4 linked regions of the Homo sapiens genome follow. The protein of the gene in region 1 binds, or shares a complex with, the protein of each later gene. Each region holds a gene or a part of one and is shown on either strand. Other genes may lie near its edges.

Evidence for each region.
Region 2: PPP4C (region 1) and PPP4R2 share a complex: the UniProt entries of both Homo sapiens proteins name them as parts of the PP4 complex.
Region 3: PPP4C (region 1) and PPP4R1 share a complex: the UniProt entries of both Homo sapiens proteins name them as parts of the PP4 complex.
Region 4: PPP4C (region 1) and PPP4R3A share a complex: the UniProt entries of both Homo sapiens proteins name them as parts of the PP4 complex.

Annotation. Positions count from the first base shown.
Region 1 is NC_000016.10:30,082,046-30,086,080, reverse strand, and holds the end of PPP4C (serine/threonine-protein phosphatase 4 catalytic subunit), read right to left. Parts: intron 3,598-4,035; coding exon 3,547-3,597; intron 3,336-3,546; coding exon 3,234-3,335; intron 2,688-3,233; coding exon 2,514-2,687; intron 2,427-2,513; coding exon 2,300-2,426; intron 1,416-2,299; coding exon 1,226-1,415; intron 1,149-1,225; coding exon 1,019-1,148; 3' UTR 705-1,018; downstream 1-704. UniProt on the Homo sapiens protein: Protein phosphatase that is involved in many processes such as microtubule organization at centrosomes, maturation of spliceosomal snRNPs, apoptosis, DNA repair, tumor necrosis factor (TNF)-alpha signaling, activation of c-Jun N-terminal kinase MAPK8, regulation of histone acetylation, DNA damage checkpoint signaling, NF-kappa-B activation and cell migration.
Region 2 is NC_000003.12:72,999,488-73,003,580, reverse strand, and holds part of PPP4R2 (serine/threonine-protein phosphatase 4 regulatory subunit 2), read right to left. Parts: intron 1-4,093. UniProt on the Homo sapiens protein: Regulatory subunit of serine/threonine-protein phosphatase 4 (PP4). May regulate the activity of PPP4C at centrosomal microtubule organizing centers.
Region 3 is NC_000018.10:9,604,108-9,608,200, forward strand, and holds part of PPP4R1 (serine/threonine-protein phosphatase 4 regulatory subunit 1), read right to left. Parts: intron 1-4,093. UniProt on the Homo sapiens protein: Regulatory subunit of serine/threonine-protein phosphatase 4. May play a role in regulation of cell division in renal glomeruli. The PPP4C-PPP4R1 PP4 complex may play a role in dephosphorylation and regulation of HDAC3.
Region 4 is NC_000014.9:91,471,718-91,475,810, reverse strand, and holds part of PPP4R3A (serine/threonine-protein phosphatase 4 regulatory subunit 3A), read left to right. Parts: intron 1-2,440; coding exon 2,441-2,572; intron 2,573-2,675; coding exon 2,676-2,778; intron 2,779-4,093. UniProt on the Homo sapiens protein: Regulatory subunit of serine/threonine-protein phosphatase 4. May regulate the activity of PPP4C at centrosomal microtubule organizing centers.

The sequences.
Region 1 (4,035 bases):
GATTTCACTCCCACCCCCCTCTGGCTTCAAAGCCTAACCAAGGCTGCTGGGAGTCCAGCTGGGGCCGGCTTCCCCTTCCCGGCTCTCACCTCCGTGTGAATGGAAGGGGCTCTGCCTGGCCAAATGGGGCCACAGACCAGCATCCCCACTTACCAGGCCTCCCCATGGGCTCTGGAGGGGCTCAATCCCCACCCCCCCACACACACTGGTGCAGGCCACACCAGTCTGTTGTTCTGGGACCAGAGTATTTTTGTTAATAAAACTCAAAAGCCATCCATGCTCAGGAAACATTGGGCTCCTGTGTTTGGCCCTGGGCGGGGCTGGGTGAGCAAAGGCTTTGCTAGGAGACCCAGGCCCAGATCTAGACCTGTGTTTCCAGCTGCCTGACCTAGCACAAAATCCACTGGCCCTCTAGGCCCATCTCCTCTTCAGGAAAATGGAGAAATCAGAATCCTGTGATTCTGTGTGTGCCTGTGTGTGTATGCTGTTAATAAGATAAGGCTGCCCATGAGAACAGAGCCCTCTCCCTAGGGCTGGGGAAGCCAGCAGGCAGCGGCCCCTGGAGGCCCTGGGCAAGCTGACTGGCCTGAGCCTGGCCCTCTTGGCAGGTCGGGGCCCTGAGGCAGTCAAGGCCCTGACGTCCACCCCAGGTCCCAGGCCAGCAACCCTGTGCATTCCCAACCAAGTCTGGCACAAACCCAAAAACCATTTTTCTTCTTTTATTAGAATTTTTTCATTTTTTTTCTCAAAATTTTTATCTAAAAACAAACAGAAAAAAGAAGGAAAAAAAGAAAAAAAAATTATTGGAAACTTCATGGTTCAAGTGGGGAGAGAGGAGGAGGAACATGGAGCTAGGTCTCCAGGCCTCTCCAGAGAAGTCCTCACCCTCGAAGCACCCTCTTGGGGGACAGCAGAGCCAGGACAGCCCCCCCCACGCCCAGCCTCCGTCTGAGGAAGATGGCAGAGTCACAGTGGTGCGAGGGCCAGAAGGGTTGGAGGGGGCAGGGGCCGGGCGGGGTCACAGGAAGTAGTCGGCCACGGGCTTCTTGGAGGGGATGCCCCGTGTCTCTTGGGGAGCAGCCTCAAAGATGATGAAATCTTTCTGGAGATGCTCGTCCAGCTCCAAGATGGCTGCCACATTCCCACAGCTGGAAGGCGGGGCAGCAGGGTCAGGAGCAGCTCGGCTCAGATGCCCGCCCATCCCAGCCCGGCCCAGCCGGCTCACCGGTAGCAGTAGTTGGGTGCCGACCACACAGTGAGCACCGTCTCATTGAAGTGCCACTTGTAACCTTCCATCACCAGTTGGTGGGCACGGCAGATCATGTCAATGTCATTGGCTGCGTTGAACTGGGCCACCACGTCACTGCCAAATAGGTAGCCGGCTCCTCGGGGGCTCACGCCCCAGCCTGTGGTGTCTGATGCGGAAAGGGAGGGATGGAGAGGGATGTCCTCAGGCTTCTCTGGCTGCCAGCGCTGCCCCTTGAGGGTGAGCAGCCTGGCCCCTCCCCAAGTCCACCAGAGGCCCGTGGGACCAGAGCATGGGGCCTGAATATGGTCTGTGGGATGGCGGGGACCAGGACAGCAAATGTAGGGGCAGATAAGCTCCAGAGGAGAAAGAACGCCCAATGCCTGGGGCCCCCTCATAATCACAGTGATCATACAATCCCCGTCCAAACAGCACATAAGAGTGAAAGGGGCACTCCCAGAGACAGAAGGGCACCCTGTGTTGTCACAGGGAGGTCCGGAGTGACTGTGGAGCAGCGGCTGCATGTGTGTGTCTGCATGTGTGTGTCTGTATGTGTGTGGCTGTGATGGAGCAGAGGCCTCGTGTGCGTGTGTGTGGCTGTGATGGAGCAGAGGCTATGTGTATGTGTGTGTGTGTCTGCGCTGGAGCAGAGGCTGCCTGTGCGTGTGTGCCTGTGACAACAGGAACTCTGGCTGGTCCTCAGAAGACCTGACTTTAAATCTCAGCTCTGCTCTACACTAGTGGAAAACCCACAAAATGAGGGGTCTCAGGGGGCTACCATTCTGGGGTTCTGACCTCTGAAGAAGCTGCTGTCATGTTCTAAGGCCCCTTCACTTCAGGGAGCCATGACTTGGTTGTCCTCCACAGCCCTCTGGGCCATGCCCCAAGCCACTGTGTGCTCAAAGCACCTGCCATGCAGGCCTCCCTGCTCCTCCTCCAGGGTTCCAGCCATTTGGCAGGTGGAGGACGAGTGACAGTGAAGACCAGCCCTGCTCCCTCTCTTTCCCAACCCCTCCTGGCTGTCCCTGCCTGCCCCTGCCCACATGCCCTCACCTTCTGGGTCAGACCAGAGGAGGTCACACATGGGCCCATCATGAGGCACCTCTTGCTTTCGGTCGATTGTCCGAATCTGATCCAGGGTCTGGATGGAGGGGGAGAGGCCCCCGTGCACGCAGAAGATCTACAGGGGAGAGCAGGGAAAGAGGACGGGGCTGAGGCCTGAAGCCCCCCTCCTCTCCCTGTCCCATGGAGCCCTGGGCTGGCTTACCTTGCCATCGATGATGGCTGACAGGCTGAGGTAGTCAAAGATCTCAGTGCAGTAGCGCCACACAGTCACCGAGCCGTACTTGCGCAGGCACTCATCGTAGAAGCCATAGACCTGCGTGATCTGGCGACTCTCATGGTTGCCCCGGATCAGTGTGATGCGATCAGGATAGCGAACCTGGGGGTGGCCACCAAGCCAGGGCTGGCGCCTAGACGGTCTCTCCACACATCCCTCTCTGACCTCCTCGTGCCCGCCAGCCTGCCATCCTCACAACCACTGCCCAGCACACTCCTGGCACCTCTTGCCTGAATCGTGTGGCATCAGCCACCTCCCAGGCCCACACGACCCCTCCAGAGAATGTAAAGCTGACCCATTCCCTCAACTATGAACCTAATGGCTCTTCTTTCACCTACCAGACACAGACCGGGTCCCTAGCAAGGCACCCAGGCCCTTTGTCATCTGGCCCCACACTGCCTCTCCCACCAGTGGCATCAATGACCTGCCACATTCGCAACAGTGAGCCTCTGCCCCTCCCAGAATGCTGCCCCGCTGGCCTCAACCCCCATCAAGTCTCTGACCACCCCCAAAAGCAGAATCGGTCCATCACCAGTGACACAGCTCCAAGGTGGGGCTGGTCACGATAGGAGATGAGGGCGGAACGGACTAAGACAGGCCCGGCCCGAGGTCGCCCAGGTTGGGGGTGCAGAAGCCGGGGACTGCCACCTTAAGTGCCAGCAGCAGGAGGAACGTTTCGACGCTATAGAAGCCACGGTCCACAAAGTCCCCCATGAAGAGGTAGTTGGTCTCAGGGACGTCGCCACCTACCTGTGGGGAAGTAGAAAGTTTTGCCCTGTCGTAAACAGTCCCCTACCCCCTACCTGTTTCTGTCCAGCGGAGGCCCTTCTTCCACAACCACCCATCTAACTTGGGGCCCCTTGCCCCCACTCCACGCCCCAAATTAAGGCTCCCACCCTCAATTACAGGGGTCTTCCAGTCATCCCCCCGTTACATTTCACAGTGTTGGCCACACTCTTACTCTGAACAGCTCTTTGAGGTCATAGAATTGTCCATGGATGTCGCCGCACACCTGGGGAACAGGAAGAGTGGGGTTGGAACTCAAGCAGTGGGAGTTGCCAGGGACTACCCTCCAAACACCCGCTGCTTTAGTGAGCTTTATCACTCTTGGCTGCACTTCTACTTCCTAGGACCAAAATTCTCCTCTCCCACCCCAAGTCAGTCTGGTCTGGAACCATACCCACTGTCCTATGCTGAGTACCAACTATTCTGTAGGCAAGAGCTAGAACTAAGTCCTTCCAGGTAGATGTCCCGGCCCCTTCCTCTCTCTACTCCCCACAAAGTACCCAGAATCAAGTTACTAACACAGAGCCCTGGAGATATGTGAGCAGAATCACTCGCCAAATAGGAGTCCTTCTGCCCTGGCCAAGAATCTCCACTAACAAATCCAAAGTCCCTTCCCATAACCCCTTTCTTTTCTTTCCTTTCTTTTTTTTTTTTTTAGACGGAG
Region 2 (4,093 bases), on another chromosome or scaffold:
GGACTGGTTGTAGGCATGAGATATATACCTACTGTAAAACTAAGATTGACAGTTAAAAGGGAAAGTCAGCCGGGGCAGTGACTATGCCCGTAATCCCAGCACCTTTGGAGGCAAAGGCAGGGGGAGGATCACTTGAGGCCAGGAGTTCGAGAACAGCCTGTTCAACACAGCGAAACCCCGTCTCTACTAAAAACACAAAAATTAGCCAGGCAATGGTGGCACGTGCCAGTAACCCCAGCTACTCAGGAGGCTGAGGCACAAGAATCACTTGAACCCAAGAGGCAGAGGTTGCGGTGAGCTGTGATCGCACCACTGCACTCCAGCCTGGGCAACAGAGTGAGACTCTGTCTCAAAAAAAAAAAACAAAAGGGAAAGTTACGTAATAGCAATATGCTCAGACAAGGGAGACAGAAAAACTTTTAAATGGGGGCTAGAAATAGAGAATATGTAAAAAAAAAAAAATTTAACATTCCTAGTAATTATATTGGTGGCAGTAATATTCGCATTATTATTTTAGACTTTCTGATGTGTAATGTTGGTTACAATCAGTAATTACAAGACATCCTGATTCTATCATACCCTGCCTGTGTTCTTGAGAGAACCAGGATTCCTGGTATGCAAAAAGTTATAAAAACCCTGGGCCAGGCGCAGTGGTTCACACCTGTAATCCCAGCACTTTGGGAGGCCAAGGTGGATGGATCACGAGGTCAGGAGATCGAGACCATCCTGGCTAACACAGTGAAACCCCATCTCTACTAAAAATACAAAAAAATTAGCCAGGCGTGGTGGCGCATGCCTGTAATCCCAGCTACTCACGAGGCTGAGGCAGGAAAATCGCTTGAACCCAGGAGGCAGAGGTTGTAGCGAGCCGAGATCGCGCCACTGCACTCCAGCCTGGGTGACAGAGCGAGACTCCGTCTCAAAAAAAAAAAAAAAAAAAAAAAAAGAAAAGAAAAGAAAAGAAAAGAAAAGAAAAATCCCTGTGCACTCCCATGTTTACTGCAGCACTATTCACAACAGCCAAAATATGAAACCAGCTCAGTGCAATGGCTCATGCTTTGTAATCTTTGCACTCTGGGAGGATTGCTTAAGGCCAGGAGTTGGAGATCAGCCTAGGCAACATAGCAAGACTTTGTCTCTACAAAAAAAATTATAAATTAGCCAGGCATCGTGGCATGTACCCTATCTGTAAGTCCTAGCTATTCAGGAGGCTGAGGCAAGAGGATCCCTTGAGCCTAAGAGTTTGAGGTTGCAGTGAGCTATGACTGAGTTGCTGCACTAAAGCCTGGGCAACAGCAAGACCTTGCCTCAAAAATACATTTTTTTAAAACAAGGAACCAACCTGAGTTCCCATCAATGGAAAAGAAAATGTGGTATATTATTCAGCAATAAAAAAGAATTAGATCCTGTCATTTGCAACAACATGGATGGAACTATAGGCCATTATGTTAAGTGAAGTTAAGTCAAGCACAGAAAGACAAACATCACGTTTTCACATATGTGGGAGCTACAACAGTGGATCTCACAAAGGTAAGAGTCTAAAGACTGATGATTACTAGAGACTGAGCAAGGAACAGGAGAGATAAAAGGGGAGAAAAAAGAATATACATGTATTTATTACCACCAAACTGTACACTTAAAATGCTAAAGATGGGGCCGGGGGCGATGGTTCACGCCTGTAATCCCAGCAGTTTGGGAGGCCAAGGCAGGTGGATCACGAGGTCAAGAGATAGAGATCATCCTGGCCAACATGGTGAAACCCTGTCTCTACTAAAAACACAATAATTAGTTGTGTGTGCCTGTAGTCCCAGCTACTCAGGAGGCTGAGGCAGGAGAATCGCTTGAACTCAGGAGGTGGGGGATGAAGTGAGCCGAGATCGCGCCACTACGATCCAGTGTGGCATAGGGCGAGACTCCATCTCAAAAAAATAAAAAAAAAGAAGAAAGAAAACTAAAATGGTAAAGATGGTAAATTACATAAGTGTGCAAGTGTGCATGTGTGTGTTTGAGACAAGGTCTTACTCTGTTGCCCAGACTGGAGTGCTGTGGCACAATCACGGCTCACTGCAGCCTCAACCTCCCAGGCTCAGGTGATCCTCCTACCTCCTCCTCCCAAGTAGCTGGGAGTAGCTGGGACTACAGGCGCATGCCACCACGTTAGGCTAATTTTTTATATTTTTTGTAAAGACGGGTTTCACCATGTTGCCCAGGCTGGTCTCGAACTCCTGGGCTCAAGTGACCCTGGGCCACCTGCCTCAGCCTCTCAAAGTTCTGGGATTACAGACATGAATCACTGCACCTGGCCAGTAAATTATATAAGTATATTTTACCTAAACAAAAAAAAAACTTTTTAAAACGCTGTATTCCTCATTCTGAATTGCAAGTCTTAGTATTTTATGTAGCTGAGTAATAATAAACTTCTCTACCACCAAGATTGTAGTCTTGAAATGCCATTTCCCACTAAAAGGCAGGTCTTCTTGAGAAATATCTGATTCACATCTGGGGCAGGAAATGAGCTTGGAACATATTCTTATACCAGAGAATAAGGATACTATCAAAAACTACTAAGGTCACGTCAAAAGGACTCTGGAGCCAACTGGAAAAGGCTACCACTGACCAAATGGGAGACAACTTGACCGTCAAAAAGGATAATAATTGCAACTCAAACCCATCAAATACCTTTAAATCCATGACTGAAATGCATCAAGTGTTTAAATTCATGATTGAAACACACCATATGTTCCTGTTTATTCAGCGCATACTATATATTTAGCATGATGTCAGAAACTACATTACCTTCAGAAGAGTGTATTCTTTCCAACATAAAAACAATTTTTTGAAGTGGCCAGAAACAATTCACCTGGGGATTAATTATTTTAGTTATATACATATATAGTTTCCCTCTTCACATCAATTTAGTATGTCTTGGCATCTTTCCTAACTTCCTACATCAGATGTTTACAGGTAATTTTAATAGACTAAGAAGTAAAAATGTTCAAATTTTTCCTACGGCCTCCTCCATTTTTCCTACAACCTCCTCCATTGTAAAAGCCTATACTTACAATTCTAAAACCTCTCTAAAGCTAAAAGCAAGTGTCAAATCAATTGTCTTTTGAAAAGAAAACTAAGCAGCCTGGGGGGTCACTGATTTTGATCCATAAACAGTTTCACATACTACTTCTGTTAATGCTTTCTTGCTATAATGCATCAGTGAAAATAAAAACAACTATGAAATTTTTTTTTGAGACAGAGTCTCACTCTGTCACTCAGGCTGCAGTACAGTGGCACCAACCATCATGGCTCACTGCAGCCTCAACCTCCCACATTCCAACAATCCTTCTGCCTCAGCCTCTGGAGAAGCTGGGACTATAGGCATGTACCAACACACTCAGGTAACTTAAATTTTTTGTCCTGAGCTCAAGTGACCCACTGTTTCCCAAAGTGCTGAGATACAGGCATGAGCCACCACATCCGGTGGAAATGCTTATCTTAAGCAATCCACCCATCCTAAAACATCAGAAAAGTCTAAATTGCTGTTCTTTAAATTTTCATTTTCATTCTCTCGTTACAATCTCACATACTAGACAAAGCTTAGTTTAGCCATAAATAGGTAGCAGAAACTCTGCAAATGTCAGTATCAAAGATATGCCATGTTGATAAAAAGAAATCAAAGCTTAAAGCTAAATGCATAAACACTGGCTGCTATTTACATAATAAAATAAAAAATATTTTCCAAATTCCATTGAATATAAGAATCTAACTACACCAATCATTTCAGTACAAAACATGCTTAGTGAATACATAAACACCGAATATGGGGTGGAGGATTGGGAATTTTAAGTCCTCTTCTACCAGGATAAAATAACTGTCCAAAAAAAATCAGATAACTTCCCCAGCCACTTGGTGTTCCAGTAAGACAGGATATTAAAAAGCTATCTTTTAGAAACTTTCAATTATTTATACATTTATAGGCAATGTACTTTATCAAAAAGGGAAAGCAGTGTGTACAAACCTGATAAACTGAGTAAGACGTTTTAAGTACTCATCTCCAAATAGTTTGATATCATCTTGTATATCAAAAAACAGCCAAAAG
Region 3 (4,093 bases), on another chromosome or scaffold:
ATATCCTTTGCAAATATGGAAATTTTATGGAGAAAATTTTGAATGTCAACTTTAAAATACATGATACAGAGTTTTCAAAATTATTTTAGTAGGTATGCAGTAATAAAGTTTAAAGACCACGGTCCTAGACTGTTATTAACATAATTGCCTGGATCCATCTACTCCCAGCCTCCCCTCATTCGAATCCAGTTTATATATCAGCACCACTTCAATCTTCCCACTCTGTTCAATAGATGCCCTTGCACGCCCTCCCTCCCAATCCCTACCATTCCACCCCCTGATAAGCCTCCCAGGCAGTCTGAATTAAGGTACAACTTTCTTTCTCATGCTGTAATTCAAGGGTGTCCAGGATCTGGCCCCAACCTAGTTTCCTCCTCTGTACACAGCCCATGTGGAGTCAATTTGCTGCAACATGCCCCACTACTTTTCTGTCTTATGTGGTTTCATCTGTTCCATTTCTGTCCTCTCTAACCTCATCTCAGCTTAAATTTACCTATTACTAACAACACCCAGGAGGCATTTTCTATTTTCTAATTAAGAGTTCTTCCTTTTAATTCCCTGCCGTCTTGGGTGCCCTTGCTTTTACTCCACCAATAATTGCAAAGTATTTTTCCTTTTTTTCATATTCTCCTACCTTCCCTTCTCCTCTCCCTCCCCAACATATATAAATTCCCTAAAGATTGTCTTGCTAAACTTTTCATTATCTAAAAAACAGAGTCCAATGCTTCTCATGGAGGCACATTCATTAATATTTGTTAATGAAAATGTAGTCCATAGGGATAATTGATAAGTCAAGAGTTTACTATACTTTATCCTTCTCTAAGATATTCACAAGCACATTAGCATATTAATACCTTGAGAAGTATCACACCAAAGAGAACTTTTTAATTCGTACAAACTTTTATCAAAATTGATCAAAACACCCTTCTATTCTCTACATAATCTCTAATAATGTAACGTAAAACATAAAAAAGCTCATAGTCTATCCTTCCCTTCAGTTTTTCCCTAGATACTGCTCAGGCCACAATAAATCGGCCACATTTTGTTTCCCATCTTTACATTTTAGAAAATGAAAGACAATGAGATACACCACAGAATGAGTTACCTTATAAAGATTTGGGGCTTTAAAATTATATTTTAACAAATAAATATACCAACAAATGAATAGGGAGGAAGATCAGGCTCTTCTATAAAGCAGAATGTCAGCTAGTAAATGCAATTAATTCAGGCAAGAATCATCAACACATTCTAACACTAAATGGGTAAATGTTTGGAAACAGGGTATTTCCCCATTGTCAAACTATTTCCTTACTAATTACAATAGGAAAAACAGAATCTTTACAGTGGAGCAATTTGATAGACATCACCTCCACACTACCAGTAATGGACACTGCTATCAGGTGCTCCTTAATCTGAAGCACTGAGAAAACTACACTATCACTTATGTAGCAGTCCTGTCAAAAAAAAAAAAAAAAAAAAAAAAAAAAAGGAAAGAATAACCTGAATCAAATCATGAGGAAACAGATAAAACCAAATGGACTCTTCAAAAATGTCAATTTCATGAATGCTAAAGGCTGAGAAATTGTTCCAAACTAGTAAGTTTGTAAGTAATGTCCTTACAGCAAAAGACAGTTGCCATAAGGACATTACTGGGGATATTTCAATATGTACTACATACTATATAACAGGATTGTAGCAATGTTAAATTTCCCAAATTTCATTACTATGATTGTAAAAGTGCCCTTGTTCTTAGGAGACACAGGCTAAAGGTCCCAATGACCACAACCTATTTTCAAAGGTACACCAAAAAATTACATTACATTGTGTGTGTGTACATAACTGTATAGAGAAGTAACGAGCAAACTGGCAAAATGTTAACAGCTTAATTCAGGTGAAGAGTTGGGAATTCATTACAATATCTGTGCAGCTTTTGTATAGGTCTGAAAGTTTTCAAAATAACAAGTTTAATTAAAAATAATTTCATTATTTGACCCCAAATTAGGTTTACGGTCTTATTTAGCTTGGTGTGAAACATCAAGATTCATTCAATACTTATTCTACATTAAGCACTGATGAGATGTATTGCTGAACACTGTGTGATGAGTCAAGAATAAAAATGTTACAGACCTTGGATTTTATAGCACAGTGAAGGGGTTGGCCAACTACAGCCAGCGAGCCAAACTGGCCCACCTTCTGTTTTCGTAAATAAAATTTTATTGGATGACACTTACTTTCATTCATTTCTGTATTGTCATGGCTGCTTTTACCTTACAACAGCAGATCTGAGTAGCTGCAACAAAGATCATATGGTCCACAAAACCTAAACTATTTAATATTTGGCCTTTTACAGGGACCATACAACATAATCTTTATAGTCTCCAGCAACAGGTATGTCAAACTTTAATTTTGTACTTTGCAATAATATAAATAATGTTTATCAGAAACCCTTCCTTCAAATATCAATACTAAAAGCTTACTAAATCCTTAGAAATGCAAAATTGTCCTATAGCACAACTGAATTTAAGGCAAGAATAATTTGCTGAAGTATACTATATGTATATTCATATATGTATTTATATTTATATATATACACCATATGTATAATGTATTTCTATTTATATAATACAGTAGTGGCATGTTTATCTAGTTTCAAGTTAGTTACCAAGATTATGTATACAAACAGTATTTAACAGAAAGGTAGTATAACAAAGCACTTGCTCTGACATACACTTGTGGATCTCCCAAATATTATAGATATTTGTTCCCTTCAGTGAGTAAAAATTTTCTTTGCACTCTTAACGCAATTACTTTGGTAGTAACCTTTTTTCCCACAGGTAATCCAAATACAAAATTTGAACTAACTCAGGTCCAAATTGCCACCAATCTTAAATAAATGAAGTATTGAATAAATGAGTTATTTCTATCAAAAATGAATTTCATAGATTTAAATATAAAAGTGATCTACATCAGGCTGGGTGCAGTGGCTCACACCTGTAATTCCAGCACTTTGGGAGGCCAAGACAGGTGGATTGCTTGAGCTCAGGAGCTCAAGGCCAGCCTAGACAACATGGCAAAACCCCATCTCTACCAAAAATACAAAAAAATTAGCCAGGCGTGGTGGTGCAGGCCTGTGGTCCCAGCTACTTGGTAAGCTGAGGTGGGAGGATTACTTGAGTCCGGGAAGCAGACGTTGCAGTGAGCCAAGATAGTGCCATTACACTCCAGCCTGGGCAACAGAGCCAGACCCTGTCTCAAAAAAAAAAAAACAAAAACAGAAACATGGATAAATGAAAGTCAAAACCGAGTAGTAGAGACATGATGGTCCATCTGCCTTTGTATATGTCTTAAGTATCTGTAATATATAACGAACTCTCAAAATTTAATAAGAAAATGTCCCAATGAAAAGATGAGCAAAAGATGTGAAAAGGCACTTCACCAAAGGAGATAAGTTAGATGGCAAATGAGCACATAAAAAGAGTAACATAATTAGCCATTAATGCAAATTCAAGCCACAAATTAATACTATTATACATTTAATAAGAGTGGCTAAAATTAAGACTGCTCACACTAAGTGTTGACAATGATGATGAGGACCTGGAACTCTCATACACTTTTGGTGGGAATGGAAAATGATATAACCACTTTGGAAAACAGTTTGGCAGTTTTTCTTTCTTTCTTTTTTTTTTTTTTTTTTTGGATGGAGTTTCGCTCGTTGCCCAGGCTGGAGTGCAATGATGCAATCTCGGCTCACTGCAACCTCTGCCTCCCAGGTTCAAGTGATTCTCCTGCCTCAGCCTCCCGAGTAGCTAGGATTACAGGCATGCACCACCACGCCCAGCTAATTCTTTGTATTTTTAATAGAGACGGGGTTTCACCATGTTGGCCAGGCTGGTCTTGAACTCCTGATCTCGGGTGATCCACCCGCCTCGTTCTCCCAAAGTGCTGGGATTACAGGCATAAGCCACCGCACCGGGCTGGCAGTTTCTTAAAAAGTTAAACAGCCATTCTACTTCTAGATGTATACCCAAGAGAAAGAACATATATATTCACACAGACTTGTGTGTGAATGTTCATAGCAGCTTTATTTGTAACA
Region 4 (4,093 bases), on another chromosome or scaffold:
GTAAATATTATTTGTACTAATAGTAAGTATTTATACATAGGAAGCTATAACTGTTTTTATTATTCACTTTTAAGATTTAATTGTTGCTGTTTGGGAAAAGTGTAGCCATAATATCAGACAGCTTATTGTTCCCCTAAATTGGTTCCTGTCTCAGTTTATCAATTTGTCCTACAGCAACTATTTATGTTCATTTAAATTGCCTTTTAAAATATTCATGTCAGTTTTTTTTTGTTTTGTTTTGTTTTAATTCTGAAGTCAACTTGCTATATTGTGTTTTTTAAATCATTTAGTCAATCAATTCTTGTATCTGGGGAATTAAGAGTAAGTTACCTAGGAAAACATTGACTTTAGGGTAGATTCTCAAAATCGCCAAGAATGAAGAAATGTAGCACAGTCCCTTAAAATATGAAGGGTGCTGTTTCTTTACTGCCTAGCCATAGAGAACAAGCTGTTACGTTGTTCACAAACACTCACGTTAGCATCTGAGATATACCAGATTTTAAAGTAGTAGAGAATATATCCTGGTAATGTGAAGGGTGCGCCTGGATCACATAGTGCGTGACATGTGAGAGCACTAAATGTGTGTGCTCTCCTTTATTTTAAAATAATTGAACCAATGATTCTGATTTTTTCCTGCTTCCCCCATAACAATTTGGAAGCAACTTTTTACGTAAGAATGAGTAAGAAGGACCTGCTCTCAGGTCCTTCTTAAGGGAGGAGGGGAATAAAGATCCCCTAAGGAAAAAAAAAAAATCTGTTTAGAATTCCAGCCTGTGGTATTTTTACGAAATAGGAAAATAGACTGTCTTACTTTTTGAAAAGATCCTATTTAATGTATTGTGATGTCAAAAGGAAATGGAATGCCATGTAACTGCTATGTTTAAGTTTTTATTTTTATAGTGCAGGATAGGTGCAAAAAAGCACCAGTTTGAACTGTTGTGTCATGTTTTTCTTTTATAAAATATTAACATCGGCCTCAGCAACATAGCAAGACCCTCCTTTAGTACAAAATTAATTTTTAAAACTTAGATATGGTGGCATGCACCCATAGTCCCAGATACTCAGGAGGATGAGAAGGAAGAGTCTCTTAAGACCAGGAGTTTGACTCTGCAGTGAGCTATGATTGCTCCACTGCACTCCAGTCTGGGTGACGAAGCCAGACCCCATCTCAAAAAAAAAAAAAAATTCTTTGAGAACCAAAGTATCTGTATTATTGAAAATAAAGGCTATTGTTGGTCCCATTAACCCATGAGCTGAACATATGAACATGTATTGATATACCTCAAAATACACACAGTAGGACTCTTTTTTTTTCCTGTTTTGCAACAGAATAACATTTCAGTCACTAGGACTCTTGATTCCCACTCTTCTTAATCATCATTTCCATCTACTGTCTGCATTTTCTCTATCCCTTGTCCATCCTGCCTTTGCATACACATAGGCAAGAGCAGGGATTTTCTCACTGAATCCCTCTCAATCTTATTTACTACTTAGGTGAGGAATACCAGTCATAATAGGACCTCAGGAAAACCAGCCATCTCTTTTCTTTGATATTTAGAATGTGTATAATCCATTTGTTCTCTGCACTCTCTAAATACCATAGTCTCATTTTCTCCAATTTCAGACATTCAGATAATTTTTTCCTAAATTTATTTTAAAAGGAAATTTTATATCACTTTTACAAATGGAGAACATACATCACTGGCCATAAATAGAAGGACTCTATAATAATAAAAGCAATAGACCAGGCACGGTGGCTCACGCCTGTAATCCCAGCACTTTGGGAGGCTGAGGCAGGCGGATCACCTGAGGTAGGGAGTTCAAGACTAGCCTGACGATCATGGAGAAACCCCGTCTCTACTAAAAATACAAAATTAGCCGGGCATGGTGGTGCATGCCTGTAATCCCAGCTACTAGGGAGGCTGAGGCAGGAGAATCGCTTGAACCCGGGAGGTGGAGGTTAGTAAGACGAGATCGTGCCATTGCACTCCAGCCTGGGCAACAAGAGGCAAACTCCGTCTCAAAAAAATAAAATAAAAATAAAAGCAACGAAAGTATTATGATGTTCTAAATCCTACCTAAATATTCTTACTCTTAAAGCTATGGTCATAAAACCCACTGGCTTTCTTCAAAAGGTAGATTACATTATTAGAAAGTTGTAAAGATATATTATCACCAAACTAAAACTTTGCTTTTGCTTTATTCAGAGGAATTTAAAGATAATAGACAAGAAATTTCTATTTAGGGCTATGTCCCTGTACCACACTTTAGGGAATGAAACACTGTCATATGTCCTGTCAGATAACTGAGTTAAACATTTCACTTTGCAGTTAACAAAACAGCTAGAGCCTAGGTATAATGCTGTGGTATGTGTCTTAGTTTTTGCTTTTTCCGTTCTCTCATAATAAGTGATCCTGAGTATGTCTATTTTTCTCTCCAGGATATTTTGCTCATCAACCTCATTATAGAACATATGATTTGTGATACAGATCCTGAACTTGGAGGAGCAGTCCAGCTTATGGGCCTGCTTCGAACTTTAGTTGACCCAGAGAACATGCTAGCCACTGCCAATGTAAGCCATGAGCATTTCCCCTCTTTTTCATAGCTAGTATATTGTGTATTGCTGGTAGGAACCAGTGTGGTTAAAGTTCATGGAATTGTTCTTGTTTCCTTAGAAAACAGAAAAGACTGAATTTCTGGGTTTCTTCTACAAGCACTGTATGCATGTTCTCACTGCTCCTTTACTAGCAAATACAACAGAAGACAAACCTAGTAAAGGTAAGATAATTCAGGTTGGTAGTTAAGTTCTCTGTTCTTGAATGCTGAATTCAAAGTTGGTGTTAAGTCAGTCTTTTTAGGAGGCAGTTAGTGGGAGGTAGAGGCTGGGAGGACACACCTTTTAAAAAGTAGTAGTCTTTAAAAGTTCAAACCATCAGGTTAACATAGAGGTCTTAATAATTTGGTTGGTTGGTTGGTTGGTTGGTTGTTTTTATCAAAAGCAACCTGGAGAATTAATGATGTATTTTGAAAAGAAAGGTTCATGACAAAAATGTCCCTAAAAGGCCTGTAATCCCAGCACTTTGGGAGGCCAAGGCAAGCGGATCATGAGGTCAGGAGATCGAGACCATCCTGGCTAACACGGTGAAACCCCATCTCTACTAAAAAAATACAAAAAAAATTTAGCTGGGCGTGGTGGCAGGTGCCTTGTGGTCCCAGCTACTGGGGAGGCTGAGGCAGGAGAATGGCGTGAACCCAGGAGGCGGAGCTTGCAGTGAGCCGAGGTCGCCCCACTGCACTCCATCCAGCCTGGGCGACAGAGTGAGACTTCAACTCAAAAAAAAAAAAAAAAAAACAATTTTCCTGAAAGTACTGTAATCAGATAACAGAAACATGTAAAAGAAATAAGATAATTTTTTGTTGAACAATATTTGTATTCAGTTTGCATCTACACTGGTGAAATATAAATAGAAGGCAGTAGCTATGAAAAAATTCATTTTAAATTATTTGTACTCCAGATGTATAGACAGAGCTAGGATTTTTGCACAATATTAAGCTACTTTTATTTATATTGAAGATATGTTAAGGTTTGTTATTTTTGTATTATATTCATTAGAGCTTTAGCGTGCGTGTGCGTGTGTTTAATTTAGGAGGTAGTTTTAGGTCTACATTCAAAAATTGCTTATTTAAGCTTTAGGAGTAAATACATTATTTTGTCATTGGAATTTTTTTTTTTTTTTTTTTTTTTGGAGACAGAATCTTGCTCTGTTGCCCAGGCTGGAGTGTGGTGGCGGGATCTCGGCTCACTGCAACCTCTGCCTCCCAGGTTTGAGCAATTCTCCTGCCCCAGCCTTCTGAGTAACTGGGATTACAGGCACCTGCCACCATGCCTGGCTAATTTTTATATTTTTAGTAGAGGCAGGGTTTTCACCATGTTGGCCGGGCTGGTCTCAAACTCCTGGCCTCAAGTGATCTGCCCACCTTGGCCTCCCAAAGTGCTGGGATTATAGGTGTGAGCCACCACGCCCAGCCTTGAATTCTTAATATAGCATAATTATAGCACTCACATAAAACACAAGTTAAATTTACTTTTTGT